Linked DNA regions of Homo sapiens: all the other regions are linked to region 2. The links come from fine-mapping of genetic effects on gene expression. A gene starts in region 2. Each other region holds a variant in brackets. All regions are shown on one strand. Distances are between the middles of the regions. Region 1 overlaps BCAR3 (BCAR3 adaptor protein, NSP family member). Region 2 holds the start of BCAR3 (BCAR3 adaptor protein, NSP family member). Region 3 overlaps DNTTIP2 (deoxynucleotidyltransferase terminal interacting protein 2).

Evidence for each region. PIP is the estimated chance that this variant, and not a neighbour inherited with it, causes the effect.
Region 1: its variant is fine-mapped to the expression of BCAR3 in lung (TOPMed, PIP 0.93).
Region 3: its variant is fine-mapped to the expression of BCAR3 in regulatory T cells (Schmiedel 2018, PIP 0.95).

What each region holds. Positions count from the first base shown.
Region 1 is chr1:93,605,854-93,616,255 of GRCh38, reverse strand. The region is part of intron 3 of BCAR3 (BCAR3 adaptor protein, NSP family member); the gene reads left to right. Among named protein-coding and RNA genes, the nearest start is that of BCAR3-AS1, 19 kb to the right of the region's middle. RefSeq lists enhancers at 150-802, 1,456-2,108, 2,109-2,762, 5,997-6,560. The variant C/T (reference allele first, on the strand shown) is at 5,253.
Region 2 is chr1:93,677,199-93,687,600 of GRCh38, reverse strand. It overlaps BCAR3 (BCAR3 adaptor protein, NSP family member), which reads left to right and starts at 5,764. Exons shown (of 12, transcript NM_003567.4): 1 at 5,764-6,003. RefSeq lists a silencer at 5,742-6,021.
Region 3 is chr1:93,860,307-93,870,408 of GRCh38, reverse strand. It overlaps DNTTIP2 (deoxynucleotidyltransferase terminal interacting protein 2), which reads left to right. Exons shown (of 7, transcript NM_014597.5): 7 at 465-4,125. The coding sequence ends at 558. Among named protein-coding and RNA genes, the nearest start is that of DNTTIP2, 14 kb to the left of the region's middle. The variant G/TG (reference allele first, on the strand shown) is at 3,266.

The sequences.
Region 1 (10,402 bases), 71 kb after region 2:
TGCTTAGGAAACAGTTACCTAATAAGATTAGTCATTATTTAATCCCGGTGGAACAAATTCTTTGGGTATTTTGGAGATATTCTTAGAATAAACAGAGAAAACCTCAGGTAACAAGAGCTGTGATACCACAGTGACCTAAGTGTCTTTGGTTTTGTTTTTACCCTGGCTGTGGAGCACTTTATTCGTAATTCTATGTGATTTACATGTCTGAGTTATTTGCATATTACTTTCAGGAATGCATTTCATTCACGATTTCTGGGGGAAGGGTGTCTGGGCTTCGGAGTCTCTTGGCTGACTAATCTCACGAATTTCTGTGCAGGATTTCAGTCACTGCCCCCCTCCCTTTTCTCAGGCCTGGGATGGTGCCTGTCTAGCCTCTTGGGGAGGTTTTTAGCTTGAAGGAATCGTTATTTGCTCTCCAAGGAGAATACCAGGTGAAAATGGCCCATTCTGTGGTGGCTAATGGCCTGATTGATGAGTCATGCTCACAGAACTGCTGGGGCCTGGGCCTGGCTGCTCACACGGACTTACCCTTTGAACTCCATCTAACGGAAATGAGGGCAAGCCAGAAAACGCTTCCTCACAGGTGCGGTACTGGACCTTCGAGGACAGTGGGGACCCACTGACCAGACAGTCTTCAAGGGCTCTTCCAGCTCAGAAAACCCTTCTGAGTTCTGCCACCTTGGTGCTTCCTTCTAGGTTCTCTGGTGGACTTTCTGTGGCCTGGGAGCCGTCAAGACTGCAGACCAGACCTCCAGAGTCAGAGAGGAGAATGAGTGAGGGAGGAAAGCAGAAAGGAAGTCATCGCCCACACTCGCTGTGGCAATAGCGCCTCACTTAGCAGCTCCATCCCCATGTTGACACGTTGATGAGGCCGGGCCCTTGCCCTTGCGTGGGTGTGAGACTGTGGCTCTCCATACCTGCTCACTGGGCCCAGAGCAATTTCCTATTTTTGTGGGCAGACTTGACCTAGTCCAAAGGCCAAGGTCTCCCGAGGATTTGACGCTAATCCCGTTGGATATTTCTCATACCTCCCTCATGCCTCATCTGGTATTGTTCCTTTCTGGACTGAATAGATCTTGTTTCTTCCTCATTACAAGTTTCTGCCTGTGTGAAGTTTTAGAAAGCTTCAGGACACATTCCATATTTGAGGCCGAAGCCACAAAAAGTTAATATTTGGAGCGGTAGGATAGGAGAGGAAGAGCTACAGGCAGAAATCTGGATTTGATTAAAAAAAAAAAAAAAAAAAAAGAACTCGTTGAGCATCCGCTATAACTGGAATGAAGGGAAAAGCAGTTAGTTTTCCCTAAAGGTGTTATGTGGCTCTTGGTAGGGGTAGAGGCCTCAGGTCGCAGGGAATCCAGGAGGGCCTTGCTTGGCTGCGTTGGATGCGAGGTTTGTGTGCAGGATCTAGGTTACGCAAAGTGGGTAATCAGAGTGGCGATGAGTAATTAAAGTGAAGGATTTAAAGGAAGGTATAGGACAAACAGTTGAGTCAGAAGTGGGTACACAGTCCCCATCCTCCCAACAGGTTGCACAGCCAGGTGGGAGGGCATAGGGCGCTCAGGGTGTTTGCTGACAGACTTGCTAATTAAACACCAAAAGGCAATATTGCTTTGCCAGTAGTGATGGCTGTGCCAACGTTATCAGCTGCAAACTGGCTGCCAGGAGCATCTTAATTAAAAATAAACAGCTCTGGAGGTGGGCTTGGGAGAGTGAGGACAGGGATCCTGCCTGGGTTACTTAGTACATCTAGTATTTCTCCTAGGGAAAGTCACTTTTAGGCCACCTCCTTTCCTCAAAGGAGCCTCTGTTCATAACAAGGTGGTGTGAATGTACAACTTACCCTGCTTCCTTAAACCTCTGGGTGCTGGAGTGACAAGCAGACAGAACCACTAGGAGCAGGTCGCATGGTACAGTTCAGCCCCAGAAGGAAATTCTGGGTCGGGGGAGAGGGGCTGCTAATGATTTCTGCCTGGTCTCTAAATTGAGGGGACAGCTAAAGCCCAAGGCCTCTTCTAAGAGGGGTTAGAATTTCATCAGAAAGCAAGTCTGGTCACATGAGAATTTCTGGCACTGTGTGCATGGCAGGCTGGACACCAGCCTGCGAGAATTGAGCGAGTGGATCGTATTGGCTTCAGCAGAGGGGAAAAGTCCCAGACTAGCCTGGGAGAAGGAGCCGACTCACTCCCCCGGCTGCCGACTTCCCTGACTTCTGGGCAGAAACAGCACAGCTGCTGTGGTGGGCTAGGGCTTTAACGTCCGAAGCCCCCTTTCTTTTAACCCTAAAGAAAGTGTGTGGTCCCCGGGACTGAAGACCGAAAGATGCCTAAGGAATGCAGTGCTTTCCACGCCCTCTCAGCAGCTCTGTGCTGCTTCTATCACCGCAAGTCTTTCATTGGAGTCAAGGTAGGTTTGGTTTGGAAATAAAGTACATCTGTCAATCTTTTGGGGGACCCTGAAAGCATGAGTTTCCTAAAGGGCAATAGATAAAAGTTTGCAGCTTGCTGATTGTGAAAACAGAGGTGCTTTCTTTGACTGATGGGTCTTCAAGAGCCCCTAGTGGTGTACCTCCCCTGGAAGCAGAACCCAGTGGCACAGAACAGGGCTCCTTGTCTGTTTTGGGCTGAAGCTGTTTTTCAGGACACTTTCAGTTCTCTGTAGGCTGAAATTTTATACTAAAGTAGCTCAATAGGACAGAGCTATTTTTCTTCTTTCTCTCTTTGTCTCTCTTCCTTCATTTCTAACGAACACAAGGTAGCTGAGCCCTTTTCTCTGTTTATCCTGCTGGTCCATTACTTATCAATAATGTACATAATGTACAGAAGCCACACAATATTTCCTTTCAAATTGCAGCCAGGTTTCAAAACATCTCAGGGTTCAGAACTGTTGTTGTCTTTACTGCTCACATTTTAACATTTGTTATAAGACACCGGTGCCAAGAGCTTTGTATAATATGTCAATACACTATTTTGATGAAAATATTCAGAGAACCTCCTTTGGCTAATTCAAGATGAGGCCTGTGTTCTATTTGCCTGCCTGTGACGCACTAGGAATTAAGATTAATATAGGCTTTCGTGGATCTTGGGGTTTGTCTGCCTTGGAAAAAGCCTGTCGGCCCCAGCCTGACTGCGGACCTCGTTTATTCCTGGGAAATTGGACTCTGAAAGCTCTCAAGGAATCCTTCCCACCCTGAAGCAGAGCTCCCTCTCCTGTGGGACTGGCTCATTCATTACCTTTGAAAAGGCTGCAGCAGGGTTATGATGTTCTGCTTCTTTCTTCTCAATACGCTTTTAAAAAAATCAGGAAAACTACCTGTTAGTGGGAGAAAACCTTTTTGTTTAAAAATATACAGAGTGGGAAAAGGGTGAGTTTCCATTGATTTTGCTCCCTGGTAGGAGTGTTCATTTTTGTCCCTTTGTCAAGAAATTTGACAGAGGATGAGTAATTAATCATTGGTTAGAAGCATTCCCTTCCTGACTTGAGCCCCTTTCTGTCCTGGAGCCCAGTGAAGTGATGCGAGATCCATGTGGTTTCTGGCCTAAATATGGATCGTTCAAGTGTGGGGCAGATGAAGTCATGCCATTAACAGTATTTTAAAGCTTCCAAGATAGACTAGGAGGTCCCAAAGGGTATGGTGCACTTCGGGGATTGGCAGTGGGTTTCACTCTAATAGAAGTCCTTCCACAAGCCAACTTCTGCTAATTCAGTGAAGTGCAACTCAGCATTGGGTGTATGAGGGAGTCAGCCTATAAATATCTGGGTCTGAGGGATGAGTTTCTGTTTGGGTACCTGTTGGTCTGCAGTTACGGCCCCAAGGCTACATAATATATAGAAAAGGCCACTTAATATATGGGGTAGTCGGGTCCAGCTGTCCTTCAGCTTGTGCACTCTCTATCTCTCCACCGTGGCCACTCTTGGTGGTTGACTGTGGTAGAAACACCCTTCTTTCCGCCTGGACTTCTACTCTATTCCCAGTTTGTCGAAGTCTTCATAGCACAGAGAGAAGGCCTGAGCTGCTCACTCACTGGAAACTGTAGCCCTCGGTCCCAACTTAGGGTTTACCAACTGCACCCTCAAGATGAGTCTCCCTGTTTTGTTTTGCTTAGCTAGTTACTTGGGAAAGAAATCTGCTTGTACTTAATCCCCCATCCTGCCAGTGGTGCCCCAGTTGATAATGCCGAGTCGCTTTATTGACTCCCACTTTAATTAGGGGTTCCAGATCTTGCTGCTCATAATTAGTTTCCGTTGCAATTAGAGTTTCAAAATTAAATTGGGATTGATTGCCTGATAGCAAAGAGGAAATAAAGCTCCAATTCTTGACCATGTATACTGCTTCTCTTGGCATGAATTTCTCATACCAAAAATAACACTGCGGTAGCCATGGTAACTTTCCATTTGGTCTAATCCATATCATCTCTGGAGAAAGTACGATGGTATTAATAGTGTTTGCTGTATGGGAACAAAACTAAAAATATAGAGGGTCCCTCCTTACATAGGAGAATGATTATACAGGTGTTTTTAGAGAGTAAGATCTTATTTGCAGCGGTCTTACAGAATTTAGGATGTATTTAGAGGCCTCATACGGACTTGTGTATAAAGACCTTGGAAAGGAATTAAATGGGAGGCCGAAAATGGAGAGAAGGATCAGGGATGTGCTGGCCCTCATAGAGTTGGGGCCAAATACAAGATGTTCCAGCCATGTTGAGGGTCATGACTTTAATATCCCGAAGGGGTTCACAGTAGACAGCCGTTACATAAAAGACTACTGGATCTTTTTTCTGGGGGAAAAAAGACGAAAGTGTTTTATTTAAGCCCAGTGGAAAGAAACTTGTAATGGAGATATTCCAGATCATAACATTAACAGACATATTCAAGTTCTAAAGTCCATGCGTGTTGAATGTAGAATGGGTGTTGAATGTAAAGTCCATGCATAAGCCCTCTGTTAGGTGGGGAGGGATTTGTGGGAGGTGTGGGGCAATAAATGAGATTTGAGGCATGGTTCCTGCCTTCAAAGACTTACCACAAGGATATTATTAGGTCATAATATCACTTCATTACATTTGCAAAAGACTTTCAAATGTATGAGTTCTTTCACATCTTGTCTCATTGGAGTCTCAAAACAAGCTCTCTATGCTATGAAGACTTCAACAACTTTGTCTCACTGGAGTCTGAAAATAAGCTCTGTGAGGTGAGCAGGGCAATAATTTACCCTTTCCGCAGAGGACACACCAAGGCTCAGAGAAACAGCC[C/T]GCCCAGAATCATTTCGTGGGGAACTAGGAATAGAAAGCAGATTTTCTGGGCTGAAGCCTAGTGCTCTTTCTTTTTTTTTTTTGAGACGTAGTTGCCCAGGCTGGAGTGCAATGGCGTGATCTCGGCTCACTACAACCTCCGCCTTCTCCTGTCTCAGCCTCCTGAGTAGCTGGGATTACAGGCACCCACCACCACACCTGGCTAATTTTTGGTATTTTTAGTAGAGACAGGGTTTCACCATGTTGGCCGTGCTGATCTTGAACTCATGACCTCAGGTGATCTGCCCACCTCGGCCTCCCAAAGTGCTGGGATTACAGGTGTGAGCCACCATGCCTGGCTGCTAGCGTTCTTTCTACTGTACTATATTAAGACAATTGACGCCTAAAATAAGATGATATTGTGTATGTTAATACTTTATTTTGCAGTTCAGTTGGGAGAGAACAGTGTGAGCCTTAGTTTTTAGGAAAGCTTCAGGGAGGATGTGGGACTGTTTTTGTTTTTGATGTTGTTGTTTGTTTGTTTTTAAGAACAGGTAACCCCTTTTAAATTTTTCTCCTTTTTTTAATAACTGGGGATTTGGATGGACAAAGAAAAGAATGGCATAGGGACGGCATTTCAGCCTGGGGGAGCAGCAGACCCAGTAGCTCAGAGATAGAAAAGCCACTGGCATTTGCAGGAGTGCAGAAGGCCAGGCCTGCTCAGAGCAGAAGGTTCACTGGGAAGGTTAGTGTGTGACATGGTCAGAGAAGTCACAGAGGATCTAGGAATAATCCCAGCAGCCAGGCCTCCTGTACCAGGGGTTAATAAGTATTTGAGGCACATTTCCCCATTGGCTTTCATCCCATTGCATCCTTAGTTCAGCTCAGCAGTCACCGGTTGTGGTACCTCGGATGTGTCGGTGCTGGGGACCCAGTGGGAGTTGTTGGTCCAGTGGGGATCTCTGCTGTAATACCATGCCTGGTGGGCATTCTGCAGACATTTAACTCTGGTTGAAGGAAACGATCGGTTATCACTGATTTGGTGTTGCTCTCTTTAGAGGGTGCTGTGGCTCCCTGGAGGCACATGCCTGGCATAGATGGGGCAGGAGTGGCGAGGATCAGGGATGGCCTCCTGCAGGGAGGCAGAGCCTTTGCTGAGTCTGGTGAATTAGTCGAAGTTATCCAGAGAAGGAGGAGAATTGGCCTTCTTCGTGGAGAGAGGAGCACGCACAAAGTGTAGAGACGTGGAGTACCCCGGTGTGGGCAGGCAGGGAGGCATCAGCCTGGAAGGGGAGCACAGGGAGTGGCCGCTGGCAGGCCCGCCCCCAGGTCCCTGGTGAGCTAGAGGAGGAACTTGGTAAAAAGCACAATGGGTCACATTTCTGGGGCTGGCACTGGAAACAAACCCCTACCTCTTCTGGCCCCTTGTGTCTCTGACTGTTAGTAACTTATTTATTTAGGTATTTTTGTGGACAGGGGACAAAGGAGCTGAAACTTGTCACTTTGTCAATGTTTGCGCCTGAGGAAGGTCAGGGGTGCCTGTGTCAGAGGAACCTAAGAGACGGGAATTACCTTGCAAGGGCGGAAAAGCCACCTTTCTGAAAGAGCGCAGATAGAGAGGTTGGGGTGTGGTGCCTGTGGATAGATGGAATCAGTAAGTCTCAGCTAACCAGGCCTTAAGTCTAGTGGCCATGGTCTTGTCAATGAGCAGCCACAGAAGGCAGGGATGTTAGACATGTGCTTTCCTAGACTTATATTCGACTGTCTTTGCAGCCAGGAAGTGCTATGTAGTATTGTTTCTTTTTTGTTTTCCTTTAAAGTCATTTCCCCTACCCTGAAAAAAATATCTGGAGCCTCTTGGAATCCATATTACAGCCTGAGGAGTCACATCTGCCCATCCTAGAGTGCCAGGCCCCTGGAACTTGGTTTCATGTGAAACTGTCTTTCTGTGGCGGTGCGTGTGTGTGGTGCAGCAGAGGCCCTGCTCATCTTCCCTGTGGCTGGTCATTTGGTCTGTCTGTTACGGTGACAGCTTGGGGACTGGTGACACATCCCAGCATTGACGATGGCCTGAGTTGCCTTTGTCAGTGGGGCAGATGCACCATCAGCACGAGCTGCGCAAGGTGGAAGAAGCCTTGCAGGAAATGTCTTTCCAAGTAACTCAGCCCCTCCTCGTGGCAGCTGCTAGTTGCTCACTTATCTCTCCAGCCCTCCAAAAAGAAAGGACAGTGTAGCTTTTTGAAAGAGGCTTAAATGCATTCCATTGGCATCTGGTTGGGTGGGATCTGGTTTCAATATCAGGGGAAAGACATGCTTGACAGAGCCTGTGTCCCAGGACCCGGTTCCCTAGCAGACCCTGGAGCTGGGATCCTGGCCAAGAACTTGTTTTTGTTGGAGAGACCTAAGTGGGAAGCAGAGACGGGATTGGGATCTTGGGAAAATTCTGTTAGTGGATTCAGCACCTCCAGGACTGCAGAGGGATGGGCCATGCTAAACACTGGGGAGGACGCTGGAGGCTTGGTGTGCTCCGACCACAAAGGTCTCCCCGCACAGCCTGCGCGAGAGGTCAGCAGTGCACGGGGGACCCAGGCCTGTTGCTGGGTTTAAAGATGTTGTCAGTGATAGCTTGGGGGCCTTTTAGCTGATGGGTATCTTGGGTATCCCCAGGAACAGCAGAGGAGACTCAGCCTGTCCTGGTTGGGAAGGAAAGGAGAGCCTCAGGAGGTTGGACACCATCTCTGGCCTCAGCTGTATTTCCAGTGTGTGTCCACAGTGCCAGGAGCTACTGTTGAAATCTGGCTCTGGCCATGAGAATCTTATGGCCTATTTTTCTGTCTAGCTCATGAAAGTGCTATGTTTCATGTCTTTTAGTTCTTGTGGAGAAGAACTCTCCCCAGTGTCTACTCTAGATATGTGTGTGCTTTTACAAAAATAGTTATGTAGAAAGGACTGATGAGTAAAATCTGGATTCTCAGTAAGATGAGATTTGAGGAACTATCCATCCAGCCTCTGACTCAGAAGCCATTGATTCATCGCCCTTCCCCAGCCTACCCCTAGCATGTGCACTGAGGGCCTACTAGGAGGGGGAAGACAGAGGTGAACATTCCGCCCGAAGGAGCTCTGCTGTGTCTGGTGGGCGGATGGAGATACAAGCAGCTTACGCTGTGCTTTGTGGTGGGTGCAAAGGCAGGAAGGATGCACAGCCTATTGTGAGATCCAGGGAGAGGTCTTTAACCCAGCCCTGGATCAGGGGACTTCCTGAAGGAGATAACACTGTAGGAGCCATAGGGACAAAAGGCACAGGAGAGGGAAAGAGCTTCCTATACGGGAGCTTGAGGCTGAAGCTGAGGAGTGGAAGGAGATGAGCCCATAGAGGTGGTTGGGGAACAGAGCATGCTGGGCCTTTTTTTTTTTAAGGGCAGTGGGGACCCAGCAAGTGGCTTGGATGCGGAGTGAGTGAGAGCTTGGGCGTTGGACTCTATGTGTGGGATGAGTTTGAGGAGCAGCAGCAGCATCCCCCTAACTCATGCCTGTGTCCTCCCTGGGCCCCTGAAGCCTCCCATCTGTCCTGCTTGTCCTAGTTCAGCTCACCCTAATTTTCCTCCCTCCACCTTCTCTTCAGGCCTTGTCCTTCTAACTCTCATAACGAGATCGTGTTTCCTCTTAGCTTAGAAACATGCTGTGGTCTTTCCCATGTTAAAAACCCTCCTCGTTTCCATGCTCATTCCTGGTCCCCATCTTCCTCCACCCCGAAGCTGGTTAACAGTCTTTTTAAAATTATTGATCTGGGGGTGCATGCACAGGTTTGTACATGGATATATTGCATAGCGGTGGGATTTGAGCTTCCAATGTACTCACCACCCAAATAATGAACATTGTACCAATGGGTAATTTGTCAGCCCCTCACTCCCTATCCCTCCGCCCCTCTTTTGGAGTCCCCAGTGTCTATTATGTCCCTCTGTATATCATACATGCATAAACTCTCACTTGTAAGTTAACACAGTCTTTACTCCCTCCCTTTCCATTGGCCACTCAGCCCCTTTTATGCCACCAGTGACCTGCACATTGCCAAGTGCAGCGGATGCTGTCCAATTCTGATATGATTGGAACTCTCTGCAGCACTTGACAATGTTGACCATTTCTTCCTGAAATCAGCTTTCTCAACCTCCAGGACACTGCATTCTGTTTGTTCTCCTGTGTCCTTCCTGTCCAGTCCTACTGTCTTCTTGGGTTTCTCTTTCTAGTCTGCCTCTGAAAAGCCTCCCCCAGCCCTCTTCTCATGCTGTATCCCATCTGTTTGGTGAAAGTTGGGATAGAATACCCCTCTATACTGAGGACTCCCAAGCCGTAGTTCTCCAGATAGGCTCTCCAGTCAACCTATGTCCATAGCACCTGGACCCCATGGCCCAGTAAGTGACTCCATCCAGAAGGCCCAGCAGACCTTAGTTCTACATCTTCTTCCACAAACCCACTATGCCCTCGTGCATTTTTATTGGATGTTGGTGGCTCAGTCATCTTTCTGGAATGCCCATGCCCCTTCCTCCTATTCATTTTCCACATGTAATTAATGAGTAGGTCTTCATGATATTACCTTCTAAACACCACTCTCACCTGTCTCTTTCTTTCTGTCCCTACCACCACCCTATTTTCTTGTGAGATGTAAACATTCTTGCTCACTGTTTAGCCCACAGGAATGCTGTATGAACTCATGAGATCTGAGTTGTATTGGGTTGAGTATCTTGTGTCTTTAAGTCCAGTTTCTGGTTCTCTGTTTCTCTGCATGACATGTAGGATGTTTGCTGTTTGCATTTTTTAAAATGCTTGTTAAATGAGATATGTGGGTATCTAGTGCTTTGAGCTCCTCTAGAAGGAATATACCTTTAAAGTGACCTGTGAGTTGTATATTGAAAGTGGTGCAGTTGATGTCTGGCCAAAACCCATCTTGTGATGAATCATTTTGTTTTACTGCAAGCCTGCTGCGTACTTAGCACTGACATGTGATGCGCTTTGTCCCAGAGCAGAGTTCTAAGATGGTAGTTAGTCATGGTACTATTTTGGAGAGAGAGAATTTGAAAGTCATTTGTTCTACACCCCACGCTGGAAGGCTGTCTGAATCTTTGGCTTTTCCTCCATGTGTTTGGCATATCTTGTTTTTCCTTCCAATTACATCT
Region 2 (10,402 bases):
GTGTGATGGCTCACGCCTGTAATCTCAGCACTTTGGGAGGCTGGGGTGGGTGGATCATTTGAGGTCAGGAGTTCAAGACCAGCCTGGCCAACATGGCGAAATCCCGTCTCTACAAAAATACAAAAATTAGCCTGGCATTGTGGCGCACACCTGTAGTCCCAGCTACTTGGGAGGCTAAGGCGGGAGAATCGTTTGAACCCAAGAGACGGAGTTTGCAGTTAGCTGAGATCATGCTACTGCACTCCAGCCTGGGTGACAGAGCGAGACTCCATCTCAAAAAGAAATATATAAATAAAAATAAAAATAAAATAAATGTTTAGATGAAGCCTGGTTGTGGACTTGAAGAAGTTTGAATTCTAAAATTGTTTATAGCATGACCAACATCCAGGGGATTATATTTATTTAGCCTATGGGGAGATTTATGATGTAATATAAAGGTGAAAAGCCAAAGGAGTTCATTCATTCAATAAGTACTGAGTGCCAGGCCCCAAACTAAGAACAAAACAAAGGCAAAACCAGATATAGATCTTAGAGTCTATAGAGCAACAGGTATTCAACAGCAATAACGGAAATGAATAATTACTGGCTGTGACAAATTCCAGGAAGGAGAGGGTGCTGTAAGGCACATTTAACTGGGGAACCTGACCTATGCTGGGTGTCAGGGAAGGTTTCCTAGGGAATAGAACATCTGGTTATTTAGTTTGTGGTACCTGAGTCTTCTCACCAGTAAAATAGGGATACTACCCTCTTTGACTCACAAAGACACTATAGCAAGAGTGGTCATGGACAAGAATGAGCTTTGAAAAATGCTCAGCGTTTCTAAAACTGAGTTTGTCCCTCCAGCCAAAGGGAGCTGTTCTCCAGCTTTGACATCTGTTGCCAAGCCAGGCAGTTACTCAGGCACTCTGACTGAAGACCTTTGATAATTCTCCTCCACTCTGCCAAGCAGCAGGGGTCAGACAGACCTGGGGTTAGCTTTGGTTCTGCCATTTAAATCTCATTTGAACTTGAGTAAGTTTCTTAATTGGTAAAGTCACTTTTCTCATTTGTGAAATGGGGCAAGTATCGATTAATGGCTTAAAGCTTGTAAAGCACTTAGCATAGTAGTTGGCATGTAGTTACTTCTAAACCAAGTACAGCTAATGTTATCGTAATTGTTATCATTGCTAATTATTAACTTTTTTTTTGTAATGGGGCTCACTGTATTGCCCAGGCTGGAGTGCAGTGGCTATGCACAGGCACAATCATAGCATACTATAGCCTCAAGTTCCTGGCTGAAGTGATCCTCTACCTCAGCCTCCCGAGTAGCTGGTACTACAGGCATGCACCACAGTGCCTGGAGCTAATTAATAACTCTTGTCAATTATTTCTTTGTAATAACTTTGGCCTTTTACCTCTATTCCCACCAGCCTAGAGAAAGCCCTTGTCATTTGGCAAGAAGTGATTCCATAGCCTTCTGATCAGTGCCCCCAACTTGTCTCTCACTTCTCTAATTCATTCTACTTGCTTCCTAAAATAACAGTATTTTGCATATGTCACCCCTTTTAATATTATCATTGAAAAATATGTGAAGCTCATAGCACAAAGAGCTAAACTTCCTAATGTGGAAAGAGGTCCTAGATAATTGGTAAGAAAAAGACCTACAAATGGGTAGAAAAACAGGAATACAAATTCCAAAAAAGAAAAAAAAGTCTACTAAACATGAAAATATAAGCATCCTCACTTATTATAAAAGAAATGTAAATTAAAATTACACTGAAATTCATATTTTACTTATCAAGTTGACAAAAATTGAAGGGGTTATTAATAACACCTTCTGGCCAAGCTGTGGGGAAATAGGCATTTTCTTACATTGCTGGGGAGTAGAAATTGGTACAATCCTTATAGAAGGCAATTTGGCATTATTTATCAAAATTACAAATGCATATACCCTTGGACTCAGCAATTTTACCTCTGGAAATTTATTTTACAGAATACTTGCACATTTTATTTATTGCCATATGGTTTGTAATAAGAAAGGATTGGAAACAAGCTAAATGTTTGGTAAATTATGGTTCATCTCTTCAAAGAAATGCTATGCAAAAAAGAATGAAGAGAGTCCCTCTGTACTAATATATGAAAATCTCCAAGATATATTAAGTGGTTTTTAAAAAGCAAAGTGTAGAACAATGGGTATAGTATGTTACTTTTTGTGTAGGGAGGGGGTAATAACACTCGCACACACACATACACACACACACACACACATAGAAACTCTGGTAGGCACATACAATATTAATAGCAGTACTAATAGCAGTACTTATTTCTAGTGGGAGGGGGTCTGGGCAGATGGGAGACAGAGGTAAGAGGGGAACTTTTCACAGGATACCTTATTATATAGTTTTAACTTGTGAACCATACTGCAATGGTTCTGTGAATACTACCTAGTCAAAAAATTATATTTAAATTACTCCCACTATTAAACCATTAACATATATTGAGCATCTACCATGTGCCAGGCCCAGGGGATACAAATGTGAATGTGGTTGTGGTTTGATGGAAAGATCCACTGAACTTAAAATACCTGATTCAGGTCGGGCACAGTGGCTCACGCCTATAATCCCAGCACTTTGGGAGGCTGAGGCAGGCAGATCACTTGATGTCAGGAGTTCAAGACCAGCTGGGCCAACATGGAGAACCCCTGTTTCTACTCAAAATACAAAAATTAGCTGGGCATGCTGGCACGTGCATGTAATCCCAGCTACTTGGGAGGCTGAGGCAGGAGGATTGCTTGAACCCAGGAGGCGGAGGTTGCAGTGAGCTGAGATCACACCATTGCACTCCAGCCTGGGCAAAGAAGCGAGACTGTCTCAAAAACAAAAAACAAAAAACAAAAAACACCTGATTCAAATTCAGATTCTGCTTCTCACTAGCTATGCATCTTGGCACACAGTAGGCATACGACAAGTATTTATTGAATGAATTTATGGTTGAAGTTACTTAACCTTCCTGAGTCTGTTTCCTCCCATGTAAGATGAGGATAGAGATGCCTCCTATCTCTCAGGGATATTGTGAAGACAAATGATAGAATGTGTCATCAATTCTAGTGATAATTAATGAAACCTGCTATGTGCTAGGCAGTTTCACATCCATTATTTCCTTGACTTCTCATGGAAACCTGTGAGGTGGGCATATATTCACTTACTCATGAGGAAATGGAGGGACTGAGGGGAAGAATGGCTTGCCCAAGGTTTTCTTCTGGTCTTTCTTTATTGCTACCTCCCCCATGCTCTGCACTAGAAACTTTGTAGGTTATGCAGTAGATACTGTATAGTAGGTACTCAGGGAACTTTGAAAATCAAGAAAAACTAATGTTTTTCCACTGTTCTCAGTGACACCTCAGAGCAACAGAAAATCAGTAAATGAATTTCGGATACTTCGATTTAGAAATATACTAGCTGGTCTGTTTGACATTCACTGCACTAAACACTTGGGGGAAAATACAACAAAAATCAAATATTCATGCTTCTAATGAAGTAGGAAGGATAAAGACTAACCCACAAAAACACTCATAAGCGAAAGGTACTCATTCTAAAGGATGCTGCACTTAGAATCTTGTAGACTTACCAACAACTGTTTCTAAGAGGGATTAAAATGGTACACCCAATACAGTACAATTAAAAAAAATTTCTTTGGAGTAAAACATACAAGCAGAGTCATGCACAAATCAATTGATTTTTATAAACTGAAGGACAGGTGATTTTTATAAAATGACATGGATTAATAAATAGAATATTATCAGCATGCAGAAGTCACCTCTGGGATCCCTTTCTGTCATAATCCACAGCTCAATATAACCACTGTCTTCACTTTTAACATCACAGATATGCTTTGACTATTTTTGAAGTTTATGTAAATGGAATCATATAGTATGTACCCATTTGCGGCCAGCTTCTTTCACTCAATATCCTATTTGTAAGATTCACTCATCTTGTTGAGTGTAAATGAGTTCATGCATTCTTATTACTATGTTGTATGTTACACAGTTTATCTCTCTTCTGCTGATGGACATTTGGGTTGTTTTCTTTTTGGCCGTCATAAAGAGATACATTATAAACATTTTTCAACATCTTTTGGTGAATATGTGTATACATCTCTGTTGGGTGCACACTTAGGGGTGGAATTGCTGGGTCATAGGATACATGTTAATTTAGCTTTTCTAGATAATGCCAAGCAGGTTTTTAAAGTGGTTGTAAAAAGTTCATTTTGACGAGCAGTATGGTCAGGCCCTTTAATTTTAGTCATTCTGGGTGGTATGAAGTTAGATCACATTGAAATATCAATTTGCATTTTTGGGATGGTTAATAAATTGAGATATTTTCCATATGTTTATTGGCTTTTTTGAGAAATGCCTGTTTGTCCTCTCTTGAGGACAGTTGAAATATTCTGCCTGTTTTTAATTGGATTTTCTGCCTTATTCTGGCTGATCCGTAGGTGTTCTTTATATATCTGTAAACAAACCTTTTTTGGATGTATGTGTTGCAATTATGTTTTCTCACTCTGCGGTTTGCCTTTTCACTCGTGGTGTCTTTTCATGAACAGAAGCTCTTAATTTTAATCTTGTCCAATGATGAGTTTTTTTTCTTTATATTAGTACTACATGTGTTTAAGACATCGTCTTTGTCTACCCCAAGGTAATGAAGATTTTTTTGGACATTTTCTTTGGATCGTGTTATTGGTTTACTTTTTACCTTTAAAATCCATCTGGAGGCCGGGCGCGGTGGCTCACACCTGTAATCCCAGCACTTTGGGAGGCCGAGGTGGGTGGATCACCTGAGGTCAGGAGTTCGAGACCAGCCTGACCAAAATGGTGAACCCGTCTCTACTAAAAATACAAAAATTAGCCGGGCATAGTGGCGTGCGCCTGTAATCCCAGCTACTTGGGAAGCTGAGGCAAGATAATTGCTTGAACCCGGGAGGCGGAGGTTGCAGTGAGCCAAGATCATGCCGTTGCACAACAGCTTGGGCAACAAGACCGAAACTCTGTCTCGAAAAGAAAAATTCCATCTGGAATTGACTGGGGATGGGGGGATTCAGTTGATCCAGCATCATTTACTGGAAAGAGAGAGCTAATCTGACCCCCAATACAGCACAGCAGCACCTGACATAAATCAAGTGACCACATATTGTAAATCTGTTTTTGGACTTTATTCCATTGGTCAGTTTGTCTATCCTTCTACTATTTCTATGACTTTATAATGGATCTTGATATAAGATAGTGTTAAGTCTTTTCCAGTGGGCTCCAATTTTTCACCCCACCAAATCATCTAGTGCTGAAGTGCCACCGCCAACTCGCACTTTGCTTTCAATACGTCCATACGAGTGCAATTGATTTGCCTGTTCCCGTGGATGGTTCATTTGTGGTTACCTGGGGCTTTGTCTCATCAAAGCCCTTCACATTGAAAGCCAGCCAGGTGTCTGCAGACGAGCAAAGCAGATCTGTTGGGTAATTAAATAACGCGGGGAAGGGGAAGGAGTGGATTCGACGAGGCTGTCTCTGGAGAGAGCTTCAGAAAGGAAGTGATCGAGCTATACTTGAGGACTGGCTCCTTGGGGAGATACGAAGAGAGCCAAACTCTAAAATCCGGGCAGAGGAGGGCCTGGCTAGGTCACCGAATGTAAATGTCTCGGGGGGTTCCGCAAGGCAGCGCGAATCGGCTCGCCGGGGTGGGGCCGCGGAGCCGCAAATCACCAGTTGAGGGCCGGAGTGCGCGCCGCCGGCTCAGAGCTGCGCCTGCTGCTGGCCGGGCGGGGGACGGGGCCGGGACCGGAGCCGGAGCTGCGGGGCGCACCGGCTAGACGCGCGCGGGATTCTCGGCGGGCACGCCCCGCGGACCATGAGCGTCCCCAGCTCCGGGAGCAGCCGCGGCGCGGGCGGTGCGAGGCCGGCCGCGCGGCGCCTTTGAGCCCCAGCCGGAGGTCCAGAGATCCTGAGAGCCCGAGCGCCCAGCGCCGCGCCGGGAGGTGAGTCTCCGCCGCGCGCCCAGCGTCCTCGGGGTGCTGTTCCTCCCGGGGCGCCTGGGCCTCCCCCACCCCGGTGAGGACACGCTAGGAAGTTTGTTGGACAAAGTTAGGCTCTGGGGAAAGTAGAGCCGGCGTTTGTTGGTCCCTACCCACCCCCGCCAGCGGATTTGGCGTTGGGGGCGGGGGTGACTGAAGTGGGGCTGGGGCTTGCGCTCTCCAGGCCCTCCGAGCGCGCTGGGACTCCCCGAGACGTGGCCCACGGCGGGGAGCGCTCAGCGATTGGCGGCCAGGCATCTTGCTCGGTGGCACTCGAGCGGCATCTTCCCGGGCGCTGGCCTCGCCCGACCCCCTGCCCGTCGGAGCTGCTCTGCCGGCCACCCCGCCCTGTCCCGCCCGTCCCCTCTTCGCAGAAGCCGGCCGGGGTCGGGCAGATGCGAGGGCCCAGAGCGCTCTGGTGGAAGCCCAAGGCTCCGAGGAGGCGAGTTTCTCCGGTAATCTCTTGGGAAGTTTGCAAAGAAAGCGAAGGAGCCTGCCCTGTAACTGTTGACAACATCTCCCTCCCTCTCTCCCTTTGTTGAGAAAGAATGAATAGTTGGTTGTGTTGCTCCCTCTGCGTCGCGGTGGGGAGAGGCGAGGGAAGGCAAAGGAAGGGAGGGACGGTGGGAAGGAGGTTCCGATAGATCGTACAGCCCAACTGTCCTTACCCACTTAGGCCGCTGAGGGCGCCGCCGCTTTAAAACGGTGTAATCAGGTGTAGACACTCGTCGAGGAGGAGGTTGAGCGGACTCCGAAGCATCTGGCAAGGCGGCGTGTTCCGTGGGGCGGCGGGTCGGGTCATGGTTGGGGTTAACTCGCTTGAAGCAAGGTGCAAAGGAGAAAAACCATTTTCCTAACCTCATATCTGTTTTCGCTTAAAGCTGTTAGCTGAGATGGAAAGTAGAGCCGTGCATTCAGATTGTTTTAAACCTTGACTTTATCTCCCAAGGCTACACAGACCTCCCCAAGGAAAGTACGCTGGCCGAGGGAAGGTCATTTTGGGAGCTGATAGCCTCCCTTGTGTTGCCTGGGACTGAGTTGAGATCCTGGAGGCTGGGAGAGGCCTCAGTGCTGGGGGTGGGGCCCAGCTCAACACAGGTCCAAGTGGGAAGGGGCTACCCGGGTAACAATGGGAAGCCCACAGGCAAAGCGCTTGTCTGCGGGCGTGCCAGGGGGTATTGAGGATAACGTAAAGACCTTGCCAAGCCAGGGGATCCCACACCACTCCAACTCCAACTTTCTCTAAAGTGCTGCTGAGAAGGCTGGCATTTCCAGGATGACTAACCAAGGTCTAAATCTCCTGTTCATATAGGCAGAACTGCTTGTCAAATGGATGCTAATCTTAAGAACCTTATCGGGTAAATCCTGTACTGTGTTGCTTGAAATACAATCCATGGAGGAATTATTCATACTTGAATCATTTGGCTAGACTTCATAAGTTTACTTCAAAAATAAAGAGATACTCTTAATTCCTAAACCCAAGCAAAACTTCATTTTAAGTGGATAAGCCAATTGAATATGTGTGGTTGTTTCATCTCCTCTCTCCATCTGACTCTCCAGAGAAGTTATAAAACTACAGATCCAAGTTGTAAATTCTCTGTCATGGGGCAGCCGAGACGGTTACATTTCCAGAGTTTAAAATATAATGAAAAGTTCTTAAAGCTCACATCAGATAACCATTATGAGTTAAACTTGAAAATATCCCGTTTCAGAAATAAAAGAGTAAAATCCAAACAAGTGGGCTGCTTATCTCTGCCTCAGCTTGCAAGATCATCAGTTTCTTTGAGACATCATTGTAAAGCAAGTGAGTTGGGCCTCAGTTCACAAACATTTCAAAGCCCAGCGACTGACCAGGCCCAGGAAGGCAGCACATGTGGTAAAGTTTGTCAGCCTCGCTCTTGTTCCTGATGTTCACATGAGTCTCAGATTTTCATATCAAGATGCAGAGTCTTTGACTTTTGTATAATATTTCAAAATCTGGCATTAGACTGAGTCAGGACATTGTGTTTGTTTTCCTGCACAGTAGAGAGAAGTCAGATGGCCAGAGTCTCACCTGGGCTTTTTTCTAAAGACTGCATGTAGGCTCACTTGGTTTGCCTGTACGTGTGTCTGTGTCTGTGTCCGTGTCCATGTCCTACTTGGCTTGGTGTCTTTGCATCTATTGTTCTAGGTTAAAACGTTTCCCTCCCCATCCTTCCCAGTTGCAGTCTTCATTTGTGAACTCTCAGAGTTACTTCCTTTGTGAACCCTCAGTATAACAGAGATACAGTGACTCTTATCTGACAAGATAGATAAGAGCAGCCCCTGTCCTGCTTAGAGGGGACCTGCTATTTACTAAGTGTTTGCAGTATTTCAAGAACTTTGTATACACAATCACTTTTAATCTTTACAACAATCTTATGAAATAGCTGTTAAGTCATTTTTTAAAATGAGAAACCGTCAGGTTGAGTAACTTGTCCCAGGCCATACAGCTGGTAAGTCAGTGGCAGAGTAGAGATTTGAACCTGTAGATATCTGCCTCCAAAGCCTAGGTTCTGAGTCATACCATTTTATTTTTAAAAAATCAAATGGTACATAAGAAGTATATAATGACTAGGGACATTGAGACAGAAATATTTCCAAGTGGAGAAAACATGGGAGCCAGAGGCTGGAGACTTGGGTTTAGTCTCCATCAGCTGTCATTCCAACCGCTTGTTCCTATGGCAAGACCTTTGCATTTGCCAGATCCCTTGCCTGGAACCCCCTTCAGACCTTTTTTTGACTGGCTCCTTCCCTTGCCTTTTTTCAGGTCTCATGTCATTGTTACCTTTTCAGAGAGGCCTTCCCAGTCCACCCTAATGTAAAGTAGCTCTCCACCCGCAACAGTCATCCTTTGTCAGTTCATCCTGTTTATATTCCTTAGCGTGCTTACAACTTGGATGTTAACTCATTTTCTTGTTTGTATAGGTTGGATTCCTCCATGAGAGCAGGAGCTTGTCTAATTTATTATATCCTTAGCCTTGGTACACCATAAGCCCTCAGAGAATATATATCAAATGAACATTTATTTCCCTTATCTAGAAAAATGGACTGGGAATTACCAGTACTTATGGTCATAATTTATTGTCTGCTTCCTCCAGAGTATTATTAGCTTCATGAGGACAGACCACTTCTGTCTTGTTTAATGCTGTCCCCAACACCTAGCATAGTGCCAGCCATAAAGGAGACCCTCCATGAATGTATGCATTGAAGAATCAATGTTTCTATTGATTGAATGATACTCCTTCATCATCATTGAATTCTGTTTTGCAGGTAAACAATTATGACTCAATTGCTGTGTACCAAAAAGACTCACTAATCCAGTGGTTCTCAATCCTGGCTTCACATTGGTCAATACTGGAGACTGATGCTAATGTCCCGCCCACAGAGATTCTCATTTTATTGTTCTGGGCTGAGGCTTGGGCATCAGGATTTTAAAAGCTTCCCAGAGGATTCTTATGTGTAGCCAGGTTGAGAACCAATGGTTTACGTTTTTATAGTAGAACTCATTCCTTGCTTTGGTCCTTATAGGCTTGAAGAAGCCATGGTAAGAGAGAGCAGGGGTATAATTCATGGGTATTGTATGATTCCTGACAGTTTAAGAGGTACTTCACAGCTGTTATCACATCTGATAATAACAAGTTAAGGGATCTACTCTCTGGTTTAAATATTGCCTTTATGTTGATGATTCCTAAAAATCTCCATCTGCCCTCACTTCTAATTGTGCATACCAGTATCTAACCTCCTCTTAGACCAAATTGTTTGCTGATACCTCACATGCAGCAGCTCCAGTGCTGTGCTTGGTTCCTGCAGGGGTGGGTCCCCTTCTGAAACTAGTTGGCATGTTACAGCATCGCACCACCTTCTGTGGCTGTAGGCTCCTTCCTTCCAGCCAGATGCCTCAAGCTCTGATGTCTCATCACTCTCTCCTTTCTCTCCCTTTACCCAGCTGCTGCCCCAGGTCAGAATTCTTCATTGTTCCTCCATGGGTTTCACCATCAGCCTCAGTAACCTCCCTGCCTCCTTTTTCTCTCCCCTCCAGAACAACCAGAGTCACCTACTTGGGTACAGACTGGGTTCGGTCCTTCCCTTCCAGATCTTCCCTAGCACTTCCAGTCAAGTCCAGACACCTTGGCAGGGCCTTCAAGACTCCATGGTCTGATGCTAACCTAAGTTGCTTCTGGGAAATGCTTCTCGGCTTCACTCGAGCCACAGCACACAACTGGGAATGTCCTGAGCCTGTGGGGTCACTTCCATGCCTTTATGCATCTGCCATCCTCCCGGGAGGCTTTTCCCCACATGTTAACTTTTCAAAATGCTTTGTCTCTATTGTTGCCCTCTCTGA
Region 3 (10,102 bases), 180 kb before region 2:
TTAATGCCTTAGTATTCTTGAGAAAATAGTTTTTACCTAATGAATCCCTTGAAAGGGTCTACTCCACAGACCACACTTTGAAAACCATTGGTCGCTTCTAAGAAATATATATATCATACTGTGCATTTTCAGGATAAGTGTGACTTTTTGTTTTGCTTAGTCCTGATTTTTGTGTTTTTATCCCTCAAAAATGTTTAAAGCATTTGATACAGCCTGGTGGATGGATATAGTGCATATATAGATCATATATGGATATATGGATAGATAGATGGATATAGTGCATATAGTAGGAAAGTCTTCCTACTACAGTTGCCATTTTTTCTCCCTAGATTGCAAGCAAGTGCTATGAGGTCAGAGACTATACTTGTCTTGTCCACCACTCCATTCCCAACTTTTACCCTAAGGTTATATTAACTTCTAATGTCTGATATATCAAACATAAAGTTCTGATTTTTCTTTTTCAGATACAACCGAAGGAAGTACTCAGAGATCATGGCTGAAAAAGCAGCAAATGCAGCAGGAAAAAAGTTCCGAAAGAAGAAGAAATTTCGCAATTAAGATTTACCAAGCAAACTGCAACATTTTACATTGCTCCTTTATTTACTTATTAAAGACGTTTGGAAAACTAACACCATCATCTAAATTAATTTACCATAGACTGGCCCTGTTCATACAGGAATTTGTATTTGGAAAAAGTTGATTTGAGAATCGATTACATGCCCTTAGAAAATAGGGGTGTCTAAAAGACCCACCCTGGTGTAGACTCTTTATGGGAAAAAAGGAAAAAAAATCTCAACCATTTTAAGATAACTGATGGTTTGTAAAGTTTTCAATGCTTAGTTATTTAAAGAAAATTTAATTAAAAGATAGGAAGTATAAAGTTTGCTAACATGTTCAAAGAACTTTAAAAAATGATCAAAGATATATAAACATTATTGTAATTAATAGGTAGTTTTATGTGTGTATGTGTGTGTGTGTCTGTGTAGGGGACGGGAGATGGTAGAGAGGCAATGCCCTATAGTTAGCTATAAAATTCAGATCCAGAAAGTTGGGATACAAAGATATGAAGAATATGACCTAGAAAGCTTGGGCAGAGGAGCTGTTTTCCTTGCTTGGCAACTGAAACAGGGAGGAATAATTGGTTTTTATCTAGATTTAAGTGTTGTGGTCCAAGTAAAACAGGATTAAACTATAATTTAAGTTGGCCAGGGTTTCTTCGAAGTTAACCCAGCTTACCTCTTCTCCAGTGGTACAGTATGCACCCTGGCTAAGCTGGTTTCTGGCACCCAAGGAGTGTTGGTCATTTCTGTTGATACTTGGTGAGTTGTAGCTTCCTTTATGTTACTATTCACTTTACCTCTATTTTTCCAGCATACTGCTTCCTTGAGATATCAGCAAATATGAAATCTTTTTTTTTTTTAATAATAGTTTTGGGGTACATGTGTAGAACATGCAGGTTACATAGGTATACACGTGCCATGGTGGTTTGCTGCACCCATCAACCTATCTACATTAGGTATTTCTCCTAGTGCTATCCCTCCCCTAGTCCCCCACCCACAACAGGCCCCAGTGTGTGATGTTCCCCTCCCTGTGTCCATGTGTTCTCATTGTTTACCTCCCACTTACGAGTAAGAACATGCAGTGTTTGGTTTTCTGTTCTTGTGTTAGTTTTCTGTTCTTGCTGAGATGATTTCCAGCTTCAGCCATGTCCCTGCAAAGGACATGAACTCATGCTTTTTTATGGCCACATAGTATTCCATGGTGTATATGTGCCACATTTTCTTTATCCAGTCTATCATTCATGGGCATTTGGGTTGGTTCCAAGTCTTTTCTATTGTGAACAGTGCCACAGTAAACATACTTGTGTATGTGTCTTTATAGTAGAATGATTTATAATCCTTTGGGTATATACCCAGTAATGGGATTGCTGGGTCAAATGGTATTTCTGGTCCTAGATCCTTGCGGAATCACCACACTGTCTTCCACAATGGTTGAACTAGTTTACACTCCCACCAACAGTGTAAAAGTGTTCCTAGTTCTCCATATCCTCTCCAGCATCTGTTGTTTCCTGACTTTTTAATGATTGCCATTCTAACTGGCAATGAGATGGTATCTCATTGTGGTTTTGATTTGCATTTCTCTAATGAGCAGTGATAATGAGCGTTTTTTCATGTTTGTTGGCTGCATAAATGTCTTCTTTTGAGAAGTGTCTGTTCATATCCTTCACCCACTTTTTGATGGGGTTTTTTCTTGTAAATTTGTTTAAGTTCTTTGTAGATTCTGGATATTAGCCCTTTGTCAGATGGATAGATTACAGAAATTTTCTCCCATTCTGTAGATTGCCTGTGCACTCTGATAATAGTTTCTTTTGCTGTGCAGAAACTCTTTAGTTTAATTAGATCCCACTTGTCAATTTTGCCTTTTGTTGCCATTGCTTTTGGTGTTTTAGTCATGCAGTCTGCCCATACCTATGTCCAAAATCTCATATTTACTGCTTGGAGTCAAAAGCTAGTAATAGCAGAACTGACAATAACATTCATAGTTGGAGTTAGGGAAGCATCTATGTCTGTTCTCTTTTATTTTAAAAAAAAACTACTTTTGTTTCTGGAATACTATGTTTTGCCTTCTACTGGATAAAATAAGGACCCAGTATGAGAGAATTGTATCCTTTAGTGCTTCTGGCCTTCTACAAATACCTGGATATTTAAATAATGGATGAAGTTATGTTTTGCTTTTTAATAAGCAAGTCTTTTGAGAAACAGGTTTTACTGACTTTGGCCTGTGTCACTAAACTCAGTTCACCTACTGGAACTTTTTTTTTTTTTTTTGAGACGTCTCACTCCATCACCCAGGTTGGAGTGCAGTGGTGCCATCTCAGCTCACTGCAACCTCCGCCTCCCAAGTTCAAGCGATTATCATACCTCAGCCTGCCAAGTAGCTGGGACTACTGGGCATGCCATTATGCCCAGCTAACTTTTGTATTTTTAGTAGAGATGGGGTTTTGCCATCCTTACCTCAAGTGATCCACCCGCCTCGGCCTCCCAAAGTGCTGGGATTACAGGTGTGAGCCACCATGCCCAGCCAACTGGAACTATTTGAAGGCTTTATACCAGAAAAGTATAAAGAATCCAAAGGGCTGCCACAGTCAGGTGTGCTGGTGAAAGAGACCTTCAAGATACCCCTGAGAAGATCTTGAAAGATTTCGAAAAGAATGCTGTATTTATACACCATCTGGCTCCAAGATGCTTTTTTTTTTTTTTTTTTT[G/TG]AGAGACGGACTCTCGCTCTGTCGCCCAGGCTGGAGTGTAGTGGCATGATCTTGGTTCACTGCAACCTCCGCCTCCCGGGTTCAAGCAATTCTGCCTCAGCCTCCCAAGTACCTGGGATTAACAGGCACCCACCACCACACCCGGCTAATTTTTGTATTTTTAGTAGAGACGGGGTTTCACCATGTTGGCCAGGCTGGTCTTGAACTTCTGACCTCAGGTGATCCACCGGCCTCAGCCTCCCAAAGTGCTGGGATTACAGGCAGGAGCCACCACGTCTGGCCCAAAATGTTCTTAAAACAAAGTAGATGCTGTAAGACTACAGTTGATAAAGTTGGGCTCTGGGCTAGGTTCTTAGCATCCAACACAATCAGTTCTGTGTTCAGTGTTCTGCTGTATGATAAACCAACTGCTCTAGAGAAACACCAATATTCCTCTTCTGAAACCTGGGAAAATGTCTTTTTTGGGTCCCATAACTAGATGTCACAAAAGGAGTGGGGAGTGGGGAGGCTATATAAAAAAGTTCAACAAAACCTTAGTAACTGGTATACATTAATAGGATCCCATTCTTAGAAACAGCAAGTTAAAGAAAATACCATAATGGGAAAAAAAAGTTAACATTTCTGAGAGATGTACCAGGTATTCAGTCTCTCAGGCAGTGACAACTTGTTCAGAATAATTACCTACAATAGATCCCAAACCATTGAAAAATGCCTAATTGTTTACTTAATGGAATTTGTACTTACTATTTAATTAGATGAATATCTTTATTGAAAGTTTTCAGTAAGGGTTGCAACAAAAAGGGCTTTCTAATTAACCAATTCCCCAAGCATCTGTCTAATTAAAATGTAAAGTGCAATTATTCTCATTGTCACATAGTTTTTGAAGTGAAGAAAAATCTTCCAAGAAGTAGGATCAATACCATGACCTATAATTAAATGTCATAAGCGGATCAGTGTTCTATCACTGGAGAAATGAGACATCTCCAATGAACTATGAAATGTAAAATTAGGTAAGTTTGTGCATAGAGGATTTCTAGGAGGACATACAAGACATACCTTCAAATCAAGATGGCCCTGTAGTTCCTCAAGCTCAATTTTATCAATTCCAGTTACCCTCATTTCCAGTTCACTTTAGCGAATCACTATCATGGCCTTAGACTCGTTGTTTGAGAATTCAGTGGTCAAGATTCTTAACTCAGACTACCCCAATTTGTATCTTGTTATCTGTTATCCTGTTAGTCTTCCCTTCAGTTGTCTCCAACTTAGCCTTGGCTGCAATTTGGAATTACCTATGGTGGCTTCAAAATGCTGATGCCTGGGTCTCACCCCCCAAACATTGTGAAATCATGATTTCAAGCCTTTCAGCCACTCATTCTCTGAATCCTCTATCCTCATGAAGATACATTTTTCTCCCTAACCAATCTAGACCCAATTCATCAGACATTTCAAAAATTCTTTGTATGCCCCGCTAGTCTCTTTATTAATAGTCTTTTGGTTTCTGTTACTCTCGCCTCACCAATCCCAGTCAGGGAAACACTCACTATTCTTATTCTTACCAGTCTAGATTATTGAGATTCAGGAAAGTATAATGAAGCTATTGACTCAGCTGGGTTTTCACTGCCACTCCACAATCCATTTATTCAATTTTAAATACTTTCTGCCAAATTCAGTCATTCATCCTGCGAGTCAGCTAACACAAATAATTGAGTCCTGTGCATTATATAAGCACTTGGGTACAGCAGGGAAGCTAATGCAGCCTCTACACCCAAAGAGCACGCAGGAGATACAGGACACTTCCATTCTCCCAGAACCCAACTTCCACGCCTAGCCTCAGCAAACTACTTACTCCTCCTCCGCTAAACCAGCCATGGCCATCTGATGAAGGCTGCCTTACCTCCTCATGGCCCCACCAGTCTAGAGAAACTGTTCCTACATACTGCTATATTCAATTTTTTTCTCAGTCTTCATCCCTTCTAACCAGACAATGTCATCTGACACACTGATCTTCCCCTTCTTGAGGCTTCAGCTACTCTGCTTCGGTAGGAAGATCAGCTTTTCTGCTTCTCCTACCTACTCTTTATTTTTTTACTCTGTCCATCACTTAAATTGTTGGTTTCCCTAATGCCTGCCCTCATCTTCTTTCTCGATACTGTTTGACTTGAGTATCTTGTCCTCCCTCTCCTTCAACTTCTGCTCTCATCTCTTCAGATGACACCAGAGTCTCCATCCTTACATCTCTATCCCCCACCCTCTGTTGCAGACTCACATTTCCAATTAACTGTGCAAATTACCCATATGAAGTACTAGTAAGTTATCTCAAATTCCACGTATCTGGAACCAAACACATCATTTTTCTGAGATGATTAAATAAAAACTAGCACCATGCCTAGTAAATAACAAGTACTCAAAGGGAAGCTACTGTTTCCCTTTTCTCCCCCAACCTCCCCATTGAACAGTTTTAATGAGGCCATACTGCATTTTACCTTCTATGGCTCACCTCTGCGTAATGACACATACAGAAACCCTACATTCAAGACCTGACATTCAAGCCCCTCCACAAAATGACGCCACCACAGGTTTATATTCACTGCTTCCCTACTCATGCCCTAAACTTCACTTGTGCTACTTACTTGCCTATTTCTCTCTCAGCTCTTTTCACACCCTTTCTCTGGTCTGCTCTGGAGTGTCTGGATTGCAGGAAACTACATTTCCCAGATTCCCTTGCCAACTGGCTTAACAGTAAGACACTGACAAAAGACAGAGGGGCATGAAGAGGAAATAAACCAGGGTATTTCTCTCCTCTGCCTTGGTTTGGGTTGTGGCCCCACCATGCTCCCAGCCCCCACCAGCCAGATGACTCAGGCTTCCAGGTTCCGGTAACACCATCTCCCATTGTCCCTCTGGCACTAGAGGTGGTAGACGTTTCCTACTGTTGCAGTATCTGCGTTGCCAACACTTTCAGCATTTCTGCCACCTGTGGAACAATTCCCTATATTAAATTCTCTAGAGTGATGTGTTTTTCTGTCCAAACCAGACTGATACATTTCAGCCAAACCAAACTACTTGATACTGAGCATTCATTCAATCAACATATACTGAGTTCCATGCACACCAAGTACCATGACAGGTTCACCTTTTATGTCTTTGTTCATATGGTTAGTTCCACCTAAAATATCTTTCCTGCCTCCATTTCACCTAACAAAATAGTACTGACCTGAAGCCTATTCAGCAACCAATACTTTGAGCATCTCCTCTGTGTAAGGCACCACACTAGGTGCTAGGGGTGCACAGGAAAGGAGGTCATCCTAGCCATCACAGAGCTGACAGTCTACATGCTTCAGAAAGCCTTTTTCAGATTCTCTACACGGATGTATATACTCCTATTTGCCTGTGCTTATTTTTACTCCACTTATTTCTATTTAACAAATGTCTATATAGCACTTATTGTCAGGGACTGTTCTAAGGACTTACACATATAACTTATTTTTATGTTACACTTATGTACCTAAGTTCGTATGTACATATGTAACATTATATTTGTATGTAATAACTTAGGCATTTGGTAAACCTATGAGGTAGGTGCTATTATCCCATTTTATAAGTGAGAAACTGAGGCACAGAGATTAATCTATGGTCACAGAACTAGTAAGTGTAAATCTCTGTCACACTTTTATTCTTGTCTTGAACTACAGCTATCTGCACACCTGTTTCAGCATCACTGGCAGAAATTGCTGGACTTTAACTTTCTTCTGTAGTTACAGGACACTTGATTTTTGGCTGAGAATGTGGCCACCTGGGGGAAAAAAGCTGTAATTCCCACCTTCCTATGGGATGTGAGTAGAAAAAAGTGGTATGTGCAACTTTTAGGAAGTGTCCTTCAAAGATGGATGAGGTTGGAGTAGGGCCCTTCTCTGCCCTTTCATCTCCTTCCCACAAGCTAGTACGTTGACCTGATGGCTCCTGGTATGTTGACCAGAAGCAGCCATCTTGGAGCAGGAGGTGGAAGCTGCATTTTGAGGATGGAAGAATATGCATTTTGAGGATGGAAGAATAAGAACGAACCTGGATCTCTCATGATTAAGTAGCTGCTATTCCCTGGTAGCTGTTATTTCTACATGAGAGAGAAAAAGCCTTTATCTTGTAAAGTCCACCATTATTGTGGGTGTCCTGTCACACTCATAGCTGAAACCAATCCTAATTAATGAAATCACCAATCCATGCTCTCTGTCCCTCACTAGGCTCAACTTTTAAGAATATTCACTCTATCTCACTCATGTTTGTATTTCCTTCGTGCATAGTTCCTCGCACAAACTACTACTCAAAAGTTACATACTGAGGGTGAGTAGGTTACAAAATATAAACTGATGGATGTAGAAGGTCCCAGATAAGGAGGAAATTGATATGAAACCGCTCCTGACCTCTGGTCTTTTAGAATCTGTATTGGTCATAGGCAACAAAAAGGTGGGAGTGTCTCATCCTTTAAGGCAGCTTCCACTTTGTCAATACCTTCCTTAGGTCCTAGGTATGAGTAGAGCTGTAAAAGAGAGCACACAGAAGCTAGGTCTTCAAACATGAACACCTTCAGTTGTCCCCTGTCTACCTTCATGCTTTTATCTCTGCCCCCTTCCCTCTTGCCTCAGAAGGACAGGCATTTTTCTACCATTCTTAGGCTGATCATTTCACCCGACTCTCAGAACATCTTTGCATCTTAACTTTCTCATCTGTAAAATGGGGATAATTCACACTTCTTAGAATTGGGGGATAATTAAATGGTAAGGGTTAAATAAACTTTCTGGCATAAAGCAGGTGTTCAAAAAATGTTAGGTGATTCTCTTTTCCTCTTGACCCCCTTCTCCTCCAGAGGAAACTTGCTCCATTGGTTCTTGGGGAAACACCTCTTCCCTGCATCTCTTCCTATCTCTCTGGACACCCTTTCCTGGTCTCTTGGAAGGACTCATTATTTGCCTGTCCTTCAAATGTCTGTGCTGGGTTTCTGTCTTCTATACTCAGCCCTCTTCTTTTTTTTTTTTTTTTTTTTTTTTTTTTGAGAGAGTTTCGCTCTTGTTGCCCAGGCTGGAGTGCAATGGCGCGATCTCGGCTCACCACAACCTCCACCTCCCGGGTTCAAGCGATTCTCCTGCCTCAGCCTCCCAAGTAGCTGGGATTACAGGCATGCGCCACCACGCCCAGCTAATTTTGTATTTTTAGTAGAGATGGGGTTTCTCCATGTAGGTCAGGCTGCTCTTGAATTTCTTTTTATTTTTATTTTTATTTTTATTTTTTTATTATACTTTAAGTTTTAGGGTACATGTGCACAATGTGCAGCTTAGTTACATATGTATACATGTGCCATGTTGCTGTGCTACACCCATTAATTCGTCATTTAATATTAGGTATATCTCCAAATGCTATCCCTCCCCCCTCCCCCCACCCCACAACAGGCCCTGGTGTGTGATGTTCCCCTTCCTGTGTCCGTGTGTTCTCACTGTTCAATTCCCACCTATGAGTGAGAACATGTGGTGTTTGGTTTTTTGTCCTTGCGATAGTTTGCTGAGGATGATGGTTTCCAGCTTCATCCATGTCCCTACAAAGGACATGAACTCTTCATTTTTTATGGCTGCATAGTATTCCATGGTGTATATGTGCCACATTTTCTGAATCCTGTCTATCATTGTTGGACATTTGGGTTGGTTCCAAGTCTTTGCTATTGTGAACAGTGCTGCAATGAACATACGTGTACATGTGTCTTTATAGCAGCATGATTTATAATCCTTTGGGTATATACCCAGTAATGGGATTGCTGGGTCAAATGGTATTTCTAGTTCTAGATCCCTGAGGAATCGCCACACTGACTTCCACAATGGTTGAATTAGTTTATAGTCCCACCAACAGTGTAAAAGTGTTCCTATTTCTCCACATCCTCTCCAGCACCTGTTGTTTCCTGACTTTTTTATGATCGCCATTCTAACTGGTGTGAGATGGTATCTCACTGTGGTTTTGATTTGCACTTCTCTGATGGCCAGTGATGATGAGCATTTTTTCATGTGTCTTTTGGCTGCATAAATGTCTTCTTTTGAGAAGTGTCTGTTCATACCCTTCACCCACTTTTTGATGGGGTTGTTTGTTTTTTTCTAATAAATTTGTTTGAGTTCATTGTAGATTCTGGATATTAGCCCTTTGTCAAATGAGAAGATTGAAAAAATTTTCTCCCATTCTGTGGGTTGCCTGCACTCTGATGGTAGTTTCTTTTGCTGTGCAGAAGCTCTTTAGTTTCATTAGATCCCATTTATCAATTTTGGCTTTTGTTGCCCTTGCTTTTGGTGTTTTAGACATGAAGTCCTTGCCCATGCCTATGTCCTGAATGGTATTGCCTAGGTTTTCTTCCAGGGTTTTTATGGTTTTAGGTCTAACATTTAAGTCTTTAATCCATCTTGAATTAATTTTTGTATAAGGTGTAAGGAAGGGATCCAGTTTCAGCTTTCTACATATGGCTAGCCAGTTTTCCCAGCACCATTAAATAGGGAATCCTTTCCCCATTGCTTGTTTTTGTCAGGTTTGTCAAAGATCAGATAGTTGTAGATATGCGGCATTATTTCTGAGGGCTCTGTTCTGTTCCATTGGTCTATATCTCTGTTTTGGTACCAGTACCATGCTGTTTTGGTTACTGTAGGCTTGTAGAATAGTTTGAAGTCAGGTTGCGTGATGTCTCCAGCTTTGTTCTTTTGGCTTAGGATTGACTTGGCAATGCAGGCTCTTTTTTGGTTCCACATGAACTTTAAAGTAGTTTTTTTTCCAATTCTGTGAAGAAAGTCATTGGTAGCTTGATGGGGATGGCAT